2 separate regions of the Homo sapiens genome follow, and region 2 is linked to region 1. Evidence: fine-mapped expression QTL. A gene starts in region 1. The other region holds a variant in brackets. All regions are shown on one strand. Distances are between the middles of the regions.

The links. PIP is the estimated chance that this variant, and not a neighbour inherited with it, causes the effect.
Region 2: its variant is fine-mapped to the expression of AGR3 in lung (TOPMed, PIP above 0.99).

Annotation. Positions count from the first base shown.
Region 1 is chr7:16,877,176-16,886,316 of GRCh38, reverse strand. AGR3 (anterior gradient 3, protein disulphide isomerase family member) reads left to right here and starts at 4,334. Exons shown (of 8, transcript NM_176813.5): 1 at 4,334-4,373; 2 at 7,672-7,807. The coding sequence starts at 7,699.
Region 2 is chr7:16,901,088-16,910,228 of GRCh38, reverse strand. No RefSeq gene overlaps it. Among named protein-coding and RNA genes, the nearest start is that of AGR3, 24 kb to the right of the region's middle. The variant G/A (reference allele first, on the strand shown) is at 4,818.

The sequences.
Region 1 (9,141 bases):
TTTAAAACTCGGATCACATTATAACACCTTATTTGCCATCTTAAAAATGTTCTTTATCCTCTAATCTCATGGTAAGACCACATCCATATTCTCCAGCCTGTTGAACGGAGCCAAATGCCCCACACATCACTCAAGAGCCCTACCACTCTTTCCTCCCCACACCCGTTATTGTCTCCCTCCTTTCCCTGCTTCTGTTACTCTCTGGCTCTGCTTTCTTCTTCCCATTTTCTGTATCTATTCTTCATCTACTTGAGAACTATTTGGGGATCTCACTTCAGATTTACCATGGCTGCCTCCCAGCTCTGCACAATCCATTTTAATTTTATTCATGTCTTCCAAAACAGGCCCTCCCTGACCTGGGCTGAGGAAACTGGCCAGGCTGAGTCCCTGATCTCCACCATGGCAGGAAAAAATGATATGCCTGTTTAAGATATAAAAGCATTTTTATGGGAAAAAGTACAAAGTTATCACGACAAGCTACAGGTAAGAGCCTGATTGAAGGACTTGAATCTCTAATCCAAAAGCTACATGCACAATTCTACTTAATCTTACTTAGCTCACAGGGCAAATACCAAGGAATAAATCTCATTTATATTTATATTGTAAAAATACCACAGGTTTATCAAGTGTTTAGATGTAATACCCTGCAAGTTCAGAGACTTTATGCTTAATGGAAATAAAACATTATTGTTTTGCAATGGGAAGTGTAACTAATTTTGACAGAGCAAGAACCTGTAGGTTACAGACATTGATTATGAGAGGCTTATAAAAACACTATGCATTTAAATGTTTGGTATAAAATTGCACAGCTCAATAATGAATTCTGGAGGTATCTATTCCTTTAACCCAAAGAGTCTTTTTTCTCCAAACCCAATATTTTTAAAAATAACTATTTGCCTCTACAGGATTTAGAAAACAGTGATACATAAATGCTCTCTGCAAGACATTATTCTCTTTCATTTACTGAATAGTTTCACAAATACCTGTCCTAATATGGTACAATCTTCAATATTATTACATAAAAAAGAGGTTCAGAAGTATTCATTGAATGGCACCATTTGTGTTAATATACAAACATAAATAGGTAGATGTATAAACCGTTATTGCCTCAAGAAGACCCATAGACTGGGCAAGAGGAATACCTACTTTCCACTGTCAGCCTTTTAAAATGTATATATATTTTCTTAGTAAGAGACTGATAAACTGAAATACAGACAAACAGATGGACACATACACACACACACACACACACACACACACACAAAGTGAATAGGTAATCCTAATCCTATATTTAACCAATGATTTATGTGACCAATTAAACTTGTAAAAATATAGAACAATGCCCTCAAAAGAATCAACTCCAAGAGCAAAACAGCTTGATTTATTATTAAAAGAGTATATAATTAGACACACTTATATTCTGTTCCTGAATAGAATGAAACAGAGAGGCCCTACAATTTTGTAGCTTGGAAATTTAATGAAACATTTAAAATAATTATAAGGCAAGATGACTTATGTTACTTGTTTTATCTTGTAAAATTTTCTGTTGAAGAAGGTACTCTAAGCAGAGGCTAAAAGACAATATTTGAGATAATATTTCAGTAAGATTAAAATTAGAATTAAAACTGTCCTCCAGTGAACTGAACTTTCTCAAATTACTGGGTAACCCATCGGCTATAGAAAAATTATTTTCTTAATTAAAAATAGGATGTAATATGACCTACAGGAAGAGTCAATTGAAGCTGTTGACAATTCCAAATCCATTAACCGTAAGATTGATTTTGAAGATTATTGCAGGCAATTTTATGAAAAAATAAATATGAGGTCACATTGAAAAAATAAAGACAGTTAATGCCAGAAAAATACCAGCCACCTGGTATCAGATAGGTACAGTTAAGAAAATGATTAACATAATTATATACAAAGAATAATTTGTATAATTTGCCATCATGTACATGAATATACTTTAAATAATTTTACTTCTAAGAATAATCTTTCATAGAACCATTTGTGATCTATTACACAATAAAACAAATTTTGGATGACAAATATATATTTCAAAATATTATTTTAAGATGCTATAATTCCAATGACTTTATTACCTCCTTTTACTTTCAAAATTGTCCTGGGTTAGAGGACACATTGCATTATCACCCTAGTGGGAGAGACCAAAAGACACTGATCAGCTCAGACATTATAGGGTCTAGTTTCACTACCCCACAGGTACTCGACTTCCTCTTTCTCACTCTTATCTTATAATTTATTTAAATGAATATTATGTGAGAAGTTTAACAGGGATGCAGAATATTTGGAGATTTTTCCGTAACCACTCTCAGTCAACAAGAAGTTGAAAGCTTTCCCAGACTTTTCACTAACAGAGAAATATAAGGATTATTGCCCAGCCATTTCTTTGCTTTGCAAAGGCTGGCTGGATTTAAAATTAAAATTATATGTCAAGTTTCATAACCTTCAGCAAGAAGGATTCCATTTGAATAGCATGTTCCAGGGAAGGGTCCCTTTGAGAATCCTATGTAAGGAAGAAAGCACAGTTAGACAAGTACACAAATCAGCAGTACAGTTAAAGAATATACAACCTAGCTACATGAAGTTTCTTTCAGGACAATGGAAAGTTTAATTAGGAAAACAGTAAAATTTTCTATAACAAATGAGAAAATCCATATGCCCATCTTTATAGAACAAAATCCAACAGTCCTGCTTTTAAGAGATGTAGTTTAAGAATAATGGTTACCTTCTTAACATGGTCAACTCAGCCAAATCCAGCACTACATCTAAAGTTAAAATACTGGAAGCACACCCGCTTTAACATCAGGAGCAAGACAATCATCACTCCCATTCTTGCACAGTATATTTGTTAATGTATTCAGAGCAATTAGACCCTTCCCCACAAAAAAAAGAAACAAAAAAAGGGTGGGAGAAGGGAGGGATGGAGGGATGGAGGGATGGAGGAAGAGAGGAAGGGAGGAAGAGAGGAAGGGAGGAAGAGAGGAAGGGAGGAAGAGAGGAAGGGAGGGAGGGAGAGAGGAAGAAAGGAAGCAAAGGAAGAAAGGAAGGAAAGAAGGAAGGAAGGAATTTATAAACAATACCCTGGATTAAGGTTCAACAAACATTTTCTGTAAACATTTACTAAAGATAGTAAATATTTTAGGTTTTGCAGATCATACAGTCCCTGTCACAAGCACAGTTGACCCTTAAACAACATAGATTTGAATTGTGTGGGTTCACTTAGAGAAGGATTTTTTTTTAATATATTCCTTCATATGGGCAAGTTCTGTATCCACAACCAAAAGTGGATCAAAAATACTGTGTTCACGGGATGCCAAACCTGCATATGCGGAGGACCAACTTTTCATATCTGTGGGTTACGCAGGGCCAGATATGGGACTTTGAGTGTGCACAGATTTTGGTATCCACTGTCCTGGACTGTACCGGACTTTGCTGTTGCAGTGCAAAAGTAGCCATAGACACTAGTAAGCAAATGCACATGGCTGCATGCCATCCGCCACATCTCTCTCTACTTAAGGACACTGAAATTGAATTTCATATAACTTTCACATGTCACAAAATATGATTCTTTTGGGTTTTTTTCCCCAACCGTTTAAAAATGTCAAAACCGTTCCTGTTTCCTGGGCTGTACAAAAAACAGGTATGCCAAATTTGATGACACACTGCCTTACGTTATTTTAACAGTAATTAAATAATTACTCTCAATTAATTCAACAGTATCTAACTATTAGATAAATTTAAACTTATCTAATGGCCTGTTTTTCTAATTTTTTGTGCAGTAAAGGTTTTATAGAAAAATTGTAAAGAATAATCAAATTATGAAAATGTTCAACTTTAAAACAGAATTTTTATTTCCTTCTCTCTCAAAAAAAAAAGGACCCAATCTCTTTAGCTGTTAATTATATTCCTGTAAACAGAGTAACCCTTAGGAATTTCTATTTGAACAATGGCATGCACACAGTTCTTAAATTCATTCCGTTTTCTTTCTTCCTTTTCTTTTTTTTTTTTGTGCTGAACTTCAGCCAAACATTAAACTACCTTGGGAAATAAAAGGTAAAAGAGAAAGAAGCACAAAGATGGTATTTGACCTTATTTTATGAGGACATTCAATCTTAATTTAGAGAAAAAGAATAGAGCTTTTTTAGTGTGAGAAGCATGAGAACTGGAAAGAAGTACAGAGTTTTTCAGACCAGCCTATTTTTCTAAGTTTGTTTTCCGGTAACTATGCTCTTGTTTCTATGCAGGTGAGGTTGTAGGTCAGGTGTGTGTGTGTGTGTCTATAAATCCACACCCATTTTTAACCAGAAACATCCAGAATACATTTCCAACAAGAGCACTGGCCAAGTCAGGTAAGCAAGCAAATTTTCCAGATTACTTAATCAGTGGTCAAGCTTTGCTATATTTAAATAATCACCTTTTGCTATTTAAAAGTGAAGCTTTCAGTAAAGGGTAGGAAAGTGAAATGAATTTTTATTTTTCTTCTTTTACTGAACTGGATTTCCTTTGCTGGTTTCATAGTTTTATCTCTATTTATATTAATGGTATTAGAATAAATTGACGTCAACCACAAAAACGACTCTTTGAAAAGTATTCTACAAGTAATGATAGCTCTTCTTTATATTCTTTTAAGTCTTGTTTTATTTTAAAATATAGGAACTTATAATATCAGTTACTTACGTTAAATTACTTTTGAAAAATAAAATACTAATGTCATAAAATGCTAATTGACCAATGTTTATACAATCTAATTGCTGACATATGGTTATGTGCCTCCCAAATGCATTTTAAGCTGCTGTAGGCCTGTAACCATGCCACATTTATCTGTGTTCCCCCAAGTAGCTTAACCTTGCAACTGATACTAAAGGACCCTCAGCAGTTTACACTATATTTTACCAAGGAAAGCGTTATTTATTCAAAATCTACAGTGTACAAGTTGTACTGCTTTGTCACAGAATATATTTAATATCTATTTTATAATTTATCAATGTAAAACCAGAAAACCAAGATTTTTATTTTTTAATTAGAAAGTATTTGACAATAATACATAAAGACTTGAAATTTTAAAGAAAAAATGGTTCCCGCTTAACTCTAAGCTTCGCAGCTTTAAAATAGCAAAAATGATGAGGTTATGCTTTTTCTTTTTTAAAATGCAGATTCCACCTGCTTGTCTCTGTAGCTAACATAGAAAAATCTTTCTAAAGATTCCTTCCAGATTGACTTTTCTTAACTCTTCTTTATATCCAAGATCCCTGGAAGAATTTTAATGACGTTTTGGACCCTATTCCCACGGAAAAGGAACAGAGGCAGATAAAATTTTGCACACAATTTCCAGGGGTTTTGAGCCTTCTGTAGCTCAGCCACAGGCCTTCTAGAAGCCTGCTGGATCCAGGTTAAGATCCTGTCCTAGGTGGTTGCTTTAGTTCCTCCACTGCAACTCCCAACCTGTCTAACTAAGGCTGCCTTCCCTGGGTTGAGCTTTGTGTTCCAGAGTCAACTGTCCCTGTCCTGTACTAAAATCCACCCTGTATTTGTTTCAGTCTTTAAAGTACAAGATGACCAAGGCCTTAAGGTACAAGATGACATTCTGAAATGTTTTATGGTTTAATAAGTTATGAGAACTTAAACTGAAATTCTTATCAGGCACCGTGATAATTGTTTAACAGGGTTTTTATATGCCTGGAAAGAAAGGACAGGAAAGGAGGGGAAAGGAGGGGAGAGGAGGGGAAAGGAGGGGAAAGGAGGGGAGAGGAGGGGAGGGGAGGGGAGGGGAGAGGAGGGGAAAGAGGAGGGGAAAGGAGGGGAAAGGAGGGGAAAGGAGGGGAGAGGAAAGGAGTCCGGGCGATGTAGCTCACCCTTGTAATCCCAGCACTTTGGGAGGCCGAAGCAGTTGGATCATTTGAGGTCAGGAGTTTGAGATCAGCCTGGCCAACATGGTGAAACCCCATCTCTACTAAAAATACAAAAATTAGCCGGGCATGATGGTGGACACCTGTAGTCCCACGTACTTGGGAAGCTGAGGCAGGAGAATCGCTTGAACCTGGGAGGCGGAGGTTGCAGTGAGTGGAGATGGCCCCACTGCACTCCAGCCTGGGTGACAAGAGCAAAAAAAAAAAAAAAAGAAAGAAAGGAGAGAGAAAGAAAAGAAAGAAAGAGAGAGAGAAAGAGGAAGGAAGGAAGGAAGGAAAGAAGGAAGGAAGGAAGGAAGGGGAAAGAAGGAAGGGGAAGGAAGGAAGGGGAAGGGAAGGAGGGAGGGACAACTGGGGATTAGGGAGGGAAATAAAGTAAGGTTAACCTGGAGTGGTAACTATTTTCAGTCCATAGAGGGGCTGCAATAGATACACCACTGGGAAGGGGAAAACAGTATAATGGGAGGAATGAGGAAATGTCTGGAGAAATCTAGAATCTGTAAACTTCTTTACCACCAAATTGTTGTTCTCCTCCACGACTGCGGTTGCTACTTTACAATAACTAGGTGATTAAAATTGCCAAATGTTTTACCAATGCCAAAACATTGTGTCTTATATATCTTTTCATTTTCCACAATGCCTACTACAATAAAATATAGCAACATCTTTGTTTGAACAGAATCACTAAAGAATCAGTCACTAGCCATTTTGGCTAAGGAAATTTTACTATTTTGGTGATGAGTTCAATACTAAATAATGTAAGCCAATAGGAAAGACGTCTTAAAGGAACTTCAAATCAATGTGAATGATGTCTGTATATTTATTTTATATTTTGAGGTAAAGTTTCAAAACTGCATGAGTCAACCATTTTCAAATCAGTTTTATATGCTAATGCTGTAACTAAACATCTCACAAGTATTAAAGACTTCCTGTAATATATTTATCAAGTGGTTTATGACCAGATCAGGCCCAACTTTGGACTTCAGTTTTTATCTTAACGTGCAAAGTATAAAAGATGCACATTGAGTTAAGAATCAGTTTGAATTCTAGCTAACCAGGAGAGAATGTAATCATGACAGTCTATTCTTCTCTATACATATGTCTAATTTATAGTAATATGATAGTACTTGATTTTTATAAAGAGCTGTATCATAAACTGAAGGGCAAAAGTCTGAGTAATTGTTGGAAGGATGAGAAAGGTAAGAAACTATAAAGGAACTGAAGGACAAGAATCCTCCATATTCTATTTTTCCTCTGATTTCTATTTTAAGCAATATTTATTCATGTATAATCTTATCTTAGTATAGAGTTAAAATATTTTGACCTATTAGATGAAGGAGAATCAAAAGGCAAAGAATATTTCTGCATGCTAAAAGTCACTTCATAGTTTACAAGACATCAAACAACATGATCTTATTTGAGTTTCGTCTTGTTGGTGTGAACACTACAGGGCGGTTCAGAAGCAGGCTTCGTGTGCCCTGATCCAGCTCTTTTTTAATTATACAGCACCATGCCCAGGAGGCTCAGAACATGACTTCTCACCAACTGAGCATGTACTGAGTTGATTAAGTATTTTAAAAATAAAATGTGAATGAAAGTTCTATGTGGTTGGTTATACCATGTCAAACCAAAAAAGCTGAACAGTCTGTCATCACAGTATTGGTCCAACTCTTAGCAAATATCTTCTAATAATAGCTTGAAGTAATTCACTGGATTCTGAGAATTCCTTTCTGTCATCTAGCTTCTTCTGAGAGAGTCTCTAGAAGACATGATGCTACACTCAGCTTTGGGTCTCTGCCTCTTACTCGTCACAGTTTCTTCCAACCTTGCCATTGCAATAAAAAAGGAAAAGAGGCCTCCTCAGACACTCTCAAGAGGTGCTGTAATCTCATTTTATTTTCTAAACTCAGTCATTTGGATTGCTTTTTAAAATATCTGGTGTCTTCACTCATAGTCTAATTATAAAGCAAATTCAACTAACTGAATGATTTTTGTTGTGTGTGACTTCAAAATGGATTTTTTAAAACAGAAGGAATCAGTTTATTTTAGGCAGTGAATCAAATCAACTAGCAAACAATAACATAAATTTGCATTATCTTTTGCCAAAATAATGGAGAATTGGCTCGCTGTCTATAACTTTGGTAACCAGAGTCCTAGAAAATAATGATTGATTGCTGCGTCATATTGGTGTCCTAATAGCAATTTAAGATTCCTCAAAATTTGCTCAAATTCCCAGTCCTCTATTTCCCAGTCCTCCAAAAAAAAAAAAATTGGAATAATTTTATATAAGCCTTCCCAGAAAATTATACTATACCCCAAACTCTGAGAATTCGGGGTAACTAAGTCTTTGCTATATTGACTCTGGAAGACAGTGGTTTTAGACATAATCAAGGATTGCCGGTGGCTACATGTTTAGAAACATTTCTTTTTGTACTTACTGTTTTACTTGGCCCAAGAAACAAATATATATTCATCTGTAAAGAAACATTTTATTAAAAAAAATTCTCTCTTTTTTTTTTTTTTTGAGACGGAGTCTTGCTCTGTCACCCAGGCTGGAGTGTAGTGGCACGATCTTGGCTCACTGCAAGCTCTGCCTCCCGGGTTCACGCCATTCTCCTGCCTCAGCCTCCCAAGTAGCTGGGACTACAGGCGCCCGCCACCATGCCCGGCTAATTTTTTGTAGTTTTAGTAGAGACGGGGTTTCACCGTGTTAGCCAGGATGGTCTCGATCTCCTGACCTTGTGATCCGCCCGCCTCGGCCTCCCAAAGTGCTGGGATTACAGGCGTGAGCCACCGCGCCCGGCCAAGAAAATATTCTCAAAGTTAGTTTCTATATCTCTAAGTAACAGAAGTAGGAACAGAATTATTTGTCCCCATATAGCTATTCAAAATCAGCAGTATTACCACAAAGTACTTGACCATTTGTTTGCTCCATTCATATTACCACTGCAAATAGTAGTCAAGTGCCTTGGAGTAATACTGCTAGTTTTGAATAACCAAGTGGGAACAAATAATTCTGTTCCTACCTCTGATATATATATAAAATATATATAATTATAACATACAAATTATATATTATATATACTATATATTATATATAATATATATCATAGTATACATTTGTGTTATATTATAATAAATTATATATAAATATATGCTATAATTATAAATATATATTATATAATTTCAAATTCTAAAACACTGACTTGCT
Region 2 (9,141 bases), 24 kb before region 1:
ACATGTTAGATCACAAATAGGTCTTAAAACATTTGAAAAATTGAAATACTATCAAGTACATTCTCTGACCACAATGGAATAAAACTAGAAATTAATAAGAGGAATTTTAGAAACTATACAAGTATGTGGAAATTAAACAATATGCTCCTGAATGACCAGTGGGTCAATAAAAAAATTAAGAAAGAAATTGAAAAATTTCTTAAAACAAATGACAATGGGAACCAAACATACCAAAACCTGTGGGATACAGCAAAAAATAGTATTAAGAGGGAAGTTCATAGCAGTAAGTGCCTACATCAAAAAAAGAGGAAAAGCTTCAAATAAACAACCTAACAATGTGTCTTAAAGAACTAGAAAAGCAAGAGCAAACCAAACTCAAAATTAGTAGAACAAAAGTAATAATAAAGATCAAAGCAGAAATAAATGAAATTGAAAAAAACAACACAAAAGATCAATGAAACGAAAAGTTGGTTTTCTGAAAAGTTAAACAAAATTGACAAACATTTAGTCAGACTAAATAAGAAAAAAGAGAGGTCTAAATAGATAAAATCAGAAATGAAAAAGGAGACATTACAACTGATATCGAAGAAATTCAAAGCATCATTGGTGGTTACTATGAGCAACCAGTTGTGAAAGACAAACAATGTATGTTATCCCATATTTATATATGGGATCTAAAAATCACAACTGAACTCATGAACATAAAGAGCTGTTTATCTTAATTTTTTCTACCATGAAGACACAGGTAAATTTAGCATAGTTTGACAGATGAATAAAACCTACTATTTGATAGCACAACAGGGTGACTATAGTCAATAATAACTGTACATTTTTCAATAACTTAAAGAGTGTAATTAGATTGCTTGCAACTCAATGGCTAAATGTTTGAGGGGATGGATACTCCATTATTCATGATGTGCTTATTTCACGTTGCACACCTGTGTCAAAACATCTCATGTACCCCATAAATATATACACCTATAATTACCCACAAAAATTTAAAAAACAAATAAATAAATAGTTGAATTTTTTCTTAAAAAGAGGTAAATGCTACCACTCTGTTCTTGCATTCACCTTATCTGAGAGAGCAATTTTATTGAGAGGTGAGAAATTGGCATCTGAAATAAACTATTTTTCTTTTAAAGTCAGAATTTGCAGCACAACAGAGTGATTACAGTCAACAATAATTTATTGTACATGTAAAAATAAAAGTATAATTGGATTGTTTGTAACAATAAACAAAGGATAAATGCTTGAGATGATGGATACCCCATTTGCCCAGATGATTATTACACAATGTATGCCTGTATCAAAATATCTCATGTACCCCATAAGTATATGCACCTACTATGCACACACAAATTCTTTTTTAAAGAATTTGCATTGGTGACACCACTAATCTCTAATTCCGTTTGTTTCCAGCAGTGACTGACCTCTATTCTAAATTCCTGAAATGACAACTGGGAGTAAGACTTCATGACTATCCACTGACGATCCCTGACCAAAAATAAAAGCCTTGGGTGTCTCATGTCAATCCCTCAAATCGGCACCACTTGGTCATTTTTTTCCTCTCTTTGGATATAATCATACACACAATTACAGAAATTAGAGAATATCTAAGAAATAAATCAGAGTTAAATTAATAGCCTGTTGAGGAATGAGAGAAATTAGGAATTTATTCCTTGTTTGATTGCCTCTTTGGTCCTAGATGTTGACAGGTGGATACCAATTGTAGTCACATAAGGAAAATTGAAGCTGAAACTGAAAGAAAATAATCCTGGTGATCAATTTCTGTACAATCCACCACTCATGGCACCATCAATCCAAAATCCAAAGTGTAACATATTAAAGTGCTGCCTGTTTTGAGATGAGATTTTTTGTCCCCCAAAATAATTAGCTAGTACCAGTTTTCTACTAGCAAGAGGCAGAGATAAAGATATTCTCTATTGTCAAACTTGTTTTTCCACGTGGAATTTTGACCTAAAATTTCAGAATCACTATTTTCATCAGTCCAGATTTTACTAACTACACCTAGCACTTACAATACTTGCAAGTTGTAGTATTAACAGCAGAAGCTGCTCCTGATGTCAGTTTTAAACTTTATGAGGAACTTTATTTCTTAAATATGTGGATCTTGAACATTCTAACTACAATCTGTCAAACTATGCTAAAATTTACCCATGTCTTCATAGTAAAAGAAAAGTTAAGGTAAACAAAGTTAAGGAATGCTAAAGCTTCAGGCAACCTGCTACCACCAGCACTAGTTTATGAAGATTCAGAAAGTGGACACTCAAGACAATGTATGTTTTCAGTACTATAAGGCATTGAAGTCAAAATCTTATGTAAAACAGCCAGCTCTGGTGAGACACTGAACTGCTTTGGTAAAGACTTTTCTAAGCCTTTTTTTTTTTTTTTTTTTTTGAGTTCCTTGGTATTTATTACCAAATTTTTTTTTAATTCACTGGTTTTTCTACCTTTTTACTTTTTTATTTTCCCATAGGTTATTGGGATACAGGTGGTATTTGGTTACACAAGTTAAGTTCTTTACTGGTGATTTGTGAGATTTTCATGCAACCATCACCCGAGCAGTATACCCTGCACCCTATTTGTAGTCTTTTATCCCTCTCCCCCTCCCACCCTTCCCCCCAAGTCCCCAAAGTCCATCATTCTTATGCCTTTGCATCCTCATAACTTAGCTCCCACATATCAGTGAGAACAAATGATGTTTGGTTTCCATTCCTGAGTTACTTCACTTAGAATAACAGTCTCTAATTTCACCCAGGTTGCTGCAAATGCATAAATTCGTTCCTTTTTATGGCTGAGTAGTATCCCATCCTGTATATATACTACAGTTTCTTTATTTACTCACTGATTGATGGGCATTTGGGTTGTTTCCACAATTTTGCAATTGTGAATCGTGCTGCTATAAACATGCACATGCAAGTATCTTTTCATATAATGATTTATTTTCCTCTGGGTAGATACCCAATAGTGGGATTGCTGAATCAAACGGCAGTTCTACTTTTAGTTCTTTAAGGAATCTCCACACTGTTTTCCAAAGTGGCTGTACTAGTTTACATTCCCACCAGCAGCGTAGAAGTGTTCCCTGATCACCACATCCATGCCAACATCTACTGTTTTTTTGGTTTTTTGATTATGGCCATTCTTCCGGGAGTAAAGTGGTATCGCACTGTGGTTTTGATTTGCATTTCCCTGATCATTAGTGATGTTGAGCATTTTTTCATATATTTGTTGGCCATTTGTAACTAATGGTGTTTTTGGCCTTTAAATTTGCACCCATATCTTGACCCTTTGCATTTTTCCACTCTATCAGGAAGAATCAAGGATATATAAACTCAAGGAAAATTTCAATAAGAGAAAAACAGAGCTAAGCCAGCTACCACAATCTCCTTGATAAGGCTCTCCCAAGAAAAAAGCACCTTGGGCTGTTTTATCATGTCTGCTTCATGTAAACCCTTTGAGAGGAGTAGCCAAACAGAACACACCATGAAGAAACAGAAGCTTTTAACCTCTTTGAGCTTCACCAAAACATTCACTCCTTTAGTACAATAGCCCAGTGAAAACTTCACCCTTAACCCAAGTCAGAATTTTACTTTGCAAGGAACAAAATAAGCAAAGAGAGTTTTAAACATCTCAAAAAAAGGGATCAGAACTCAGGGAGGCCAGCAGATCACTGTAAAGGAAGGTAGAGTATAATAGCAAAAGGGTAACTCAAGCTTAGTTTTATTCTCACAATTGCATCCAGCCAGGCCAAAGAGATTTAGTAAATACATAATAAAATACCTAGGATAGCATTTTTTCCAAAATTTCAATCAGCTTGAGAAAATCATTTATATACACAAAAAAAGACTCAGAACAATATTACAAAGTAACTTTGACCTGAAGAACCACTGTAGGAAGAGATCATGCCAATAATGCTTGACCAAAAATGAAAAATGAACGAGTCTCATCATGTACCAGGGACCTTTTTGACTAAAAAATTTTAAAGATATTCTTTCCTTATATCTAAGAAAATAACCACATGTGTATATTTATGGAGAAATCTATCATAAACTAGCTGTCCAGACAATTCTTAATAAGTACTTGAAAATTTTAAACCTCAAACATATAAAGAATTACTATAAAGAGCAAAAAAATGTGGTGGGAAATATGTGTAAGATGTGTCCAGTATAGGTAGCAAGTAAGTAAGTAACCAGTAAAACATGTTAGCATAGAATAAATGAAATAAGCAAGTAGCACATATGATATTTTTACATAGATTTAAAAGGATGAGGGGAAAAAAACCCAAGAGCATTATTTAGGAATAAAGAGGAAGAGAAGGATAAGGTAAACATTAACTATGCATAAGGCACAAACCTTCACTTCTTTTCATAAAGGAGTAACTGTTACGAGATTGGACAACAAGACAAGTAGACAAATACTGAAACAACTGTTTTTCATGAATTATACAATAGGCAATATAGGAGGTAATTCCTGAGAGGATAAACAATGAAGTGAGTTCTACGATCACCCGAGCTTTTTGCCTGGAGGTAATTTCTGGACCATAGCACAAGCAAGGATAATATTAACAGAGCTGAGGGGAAAAAGATTCAAGTTCAGGGAGACCACGAGGGTTAGAAATTGTGGACCAGAGGATGGGTTAGGCATAGAAAGGGTTACATACTGAAAGAACTACAGAAATATGCATAGGGTTTTCCTTAAGTCTTTGGCTGAATGCCAATTTACAAACACATAAAGTGACATTCCAGGAGGCCAGAGAAGAACTACTGCTGGGAAAGAACAAATATCAAGAATCT[G/A]TAAACTAAACAATTCACTGAGTTCACACAGGGCTGGGAATTGTTTGAGTTTCCACCAGCCAGAGTGAAGAGACCTCATTGAACATACGAACATTCACAAGAAATCCCTTGGGTCACACCTTAATAGTGAGACTAAACTGCCCTAGAATAAAAGCTATACCAGGACCACCTTCAAAAAGCTTAAAAACATGGCCTGTAATAATCAAGACTGTCATGAAAAGATCATACACATTTTAAATAAATTTTTTTTAAATCCCTCAAAAATGTAAAAATTTAAATATTTGTCATCCAATCAAAAATTACCAAACATGTAAGGAAGCAGAAAATTTAACCACTATACAGGAAAAAATCAATCAATATAAACAGATCCAAGAAAGACAGTGATGAAAGAATTTACGAAGAATAATTCTAAACAAGCTTTTATAAATATAAATAGGATAATTTTAAGAATATAAAGAAAAACATAAGTCTAGTAAATAGGGAAATAGAATATATAAAAATAATCAAAGGAAACTGTTGGAGATAAAAAATATAATATCTGAAATAAGAATTTCATGGGGTATGATTAACAGCACATTAGACACTTCAGGAAAAATGAGAAACGACAATATATAACAACAGAAACTATGCATACTGGAGTACAGACAATTCTAAGAAATGCCAAATACAAATATATTTATATATTATATAAACATTCACAAAATGATAGAAGAGAGACAGGAAAGAAAGTGAAAAAAAAAAAGTTGAAGATATAATGGCTGAAAATGTTTCCAAATTTGGTAAAATTTTAAATTCAGTATACAAGAAACTCAATTTATCCCAAGCAGGAAGAACTCAAAGTCAATCACAGCAAGTCAAATTTCTGAAAAATAGTGATAAAAAATTATAAAAACCAGACAGAACTAAAGGAATCAATATTTTAAAAAGAATAAATCTAAGTATTGTCATAAATTTTGTGTCAGAAACGATTTAACACAAAAAACAATGTAATGATATCCTACGGTGCTGAAAGAAAAGAATGTCTATCTAGAATTCTAAATCCACTTTTAAAGAAACAGTCTTTAAAAAACAAAAGGCAAAATAAAGACATTTTTCAAAAGTGGGAGTGAAAAGAATTTATCAGCCACAAACATGCACTCAAGCAAGTAGTTAAGGGCATTCTTTTGGCAAAAGGAAAATGATCACAATGAAAACTTGGTTCTACTCAAAGGAGTGAATAAAGCTTAAAATAGTAAGTATGTAGGATTTTTTAAATCTGTTTTAATTTCTCTAAATAGTAATTGAGAGTATAAAGCAAAAATAATTCAATGTATTATGGGGTTTAAACATGTAGAAATATAATTCAACACATCTGTTCCAACCACTGATAGATCAAGTAGGCAAAATACAAATAAGGACATAGAAAATCTGAACACTATCAACCACTCTAATCTAATTAATATTTATAGACCACCTTACCCAAGAACAACAAAACATATATCTTTTTGTTATATATCTGTGATATATATCTATATGTTTATATATTTATATATATACACACCCAAAAAAGAATAAATCTAAGTATTATCATAGATTTTTTGTCAGAAATAATTCAAAACATCAAAATGAAATTAAAAATCAATAATCAAAATATACCCAAAAAATTCTCAATATTTAGAAATTAACACATTTTACCAACTAATGTGTAAAAAAGGAAAAAAAGATGAGAAATTTAGAAAATATTTTGAACTGAATCAAAATTCTTTGAAAAGGTCAAAATTTGGGGGGATGCAGCTAAAATAGTGTGTAAAGGGAAATCTGTGAATTAAATCTTTTTATTAGAAAAGAAGATGTGAAATCAGTGGCCTAAACTCCTACCTTAAGAAGTCAGAAAATGAAGAGCAAATTAAATAGAAAGGAATCAGAAATAAGGAAATAATAAAGTGTAAACCGGTAAAATATATAACTGAAAATAGAGAAAAATCAATGAAACCAAAGTTGGTTCAATAAAAAGATTAATAAAATTTATAAACTACAACATAGACTTATCTAGAAAAAAGAGAGAAACAAATTGCCAATATTAGAGAAAAAGCGACATTATGGCAGAGATTTTAAGCATAAGAAAATAACTTTATGAAAAACTATATTCCAACAAATTTGAATATATACATGACATAGTCAAATTCCTTAAAATATTCATATTACAATAACTGACCCAAGGAGAAAGAGAAAAGCTGCATAGAATATCAACTTAACTAAACTGAATTCCATAATCAGAAGTTTTTCATTCCACTTCTGCACATATGGAGTAGAAGTAGTACTTTTTTCTACTATTCCCAATAAGTGCAACTAAACAGTCAGGACATTTATATATAAAACTAGCATACGATGACTCTGAAACATGGAGAGAAGAAAGCCGACAAGTTAGAGACCTCTGGTCTTGAAAAAGATTATGCTCGTGAGTTTTGGGAATTTTTTTTATCCTCTTATATCCCAAACTTAGTGTTGAAGAAGGCAGCAAGTCAAAAACACCAGCAGGAGCTGATCAACAAGAAATTTCAACAAAAGTCAGTTAATGTAACCAAAGAGCAGGAAAGGGACAACCTAGAAATACAGAACATTTTTAGACAATATCTACTCTACTCCACCTAAGTACCGTAGAAGAAAAACCCCTACAAATTCACGCTCACTAACACAGGTCAAATAAACAATCTAGATTCCTATCATTGCCAGGCTGGAAGGAATCACCTCAACTTACCTGTCAGAGTGATGTCAAAGAAGGCCAAGGAGAAACCTGGATTTTTATATTCGTGAGGTCACAGTGAGGTCTACTCTCACAGTGTCTGTGAAGACCACACAGGGAGCCTAGACTTCCACACCCACTAGGTGATAACAAAGTACTCTTTTCATTCACCTCCGGGTTAGCGTCAGAAACCTAGTAGAAAGTCGGGACATTCACCGTCACTCAGTGTTAATGAGGTCATCTCCCCTGTGGCCTCATGGAGGCTGAATGGGGAAAAGTGGCAAAGTCCTCCTATTCTTCTCAGGCAGAGTGGTATTAGCAAGGCATAGTGGGGAATCAGTACTCCCGCCCTAGGTGCCAACTGAGGCCATTTGGGGAAACTGGAATTTCATCTTCCCCCAAAAATAAGTGGGCATTATTTCCTAATTCCCTACCCTTACAAGAGTGGAATCAGAGGAGGACAGCTAAAACAGAAAATTTATTAAGATAGTCTCATAACATAACACCAAAAATGTCCAGGTTTCAGTGAATAATCATGCATCATACTAAGACCCAGAAAAGTATCAACCTGCATGAAAATAGACAATCGATAGATGACAGAAATATTAAAATTCTCTGACAAGGATTTTTAAACAGTGATAATAAAAATCCTTTAATGAGCAATTACAAACGTGATAAAAACAAACTTTTTAAAAAAGACAGAAAAGAAAAAGTCTCAATAGATAAATAGAAGCTATTAAAAAATCAAAAGGAAATTTTAGAGCTGAAAAATACAGTAACAAAAATTAAAACTAACTAGATGGGCTCAACAGCAGAATGGAGAAAACAGAAGAAAGAATCAGTGAACTTGAAGATAGAACAAAATAAATGACCCACTCCAAACAACAAAAAGAAAATTGACTGGCAAAAAATAAACAGAGCCTCAGGGACCTGTGAGACCATAACAAAAGATCTAACATCCATGTCATTGGAATTTTGGAAGAGAAGGAAGGTAAGGCTAGAAGAATATTAAAATAAATAATGGCTAACAAATTTCCAAAAATGTAAATGACAGAAATTCACAGATTTAAGATTCTGAGTGAATCTCAAACGGAAAAAAACCCAGAGAACTCCTCCTAGAGACATATCATAATAAAAAATTCTAAATAACTAAATACAAAGAAAAAAATCTAGAGAGAAAAATTATACATTACCTAAAGGGAAAAAATACATTATCAATTAATTTGTGACAACAATTCAAATGACAGCGGATTTATCATCAGACACTATAGTGAACATTTTTCAAGAGCAGAAAGAAAAAAGTTATCAATACAAAATTCCATCCAGTGAAAATACCCTTTAAAAATTAGATGGGGAATCAAAATCAGATAAAGAGAAATTGTTGCCAGCAGACCTACCCTGAAAGAATGGCTAAAGGAAGTTCTTGAAATATAATGGAAATAATAAAAGATAGAATCTGAGAACATCAGGAAGAACAACAGAACGAGTAAGAATATAAGTAAATACAACAGACTTAACTTCTTGAGTTTTCTAAATTATGTTTCAAGGTTGAAGCAAACATTAGAACACTGAAGTAGCTCTTAATTTATATAGAGTAAATTT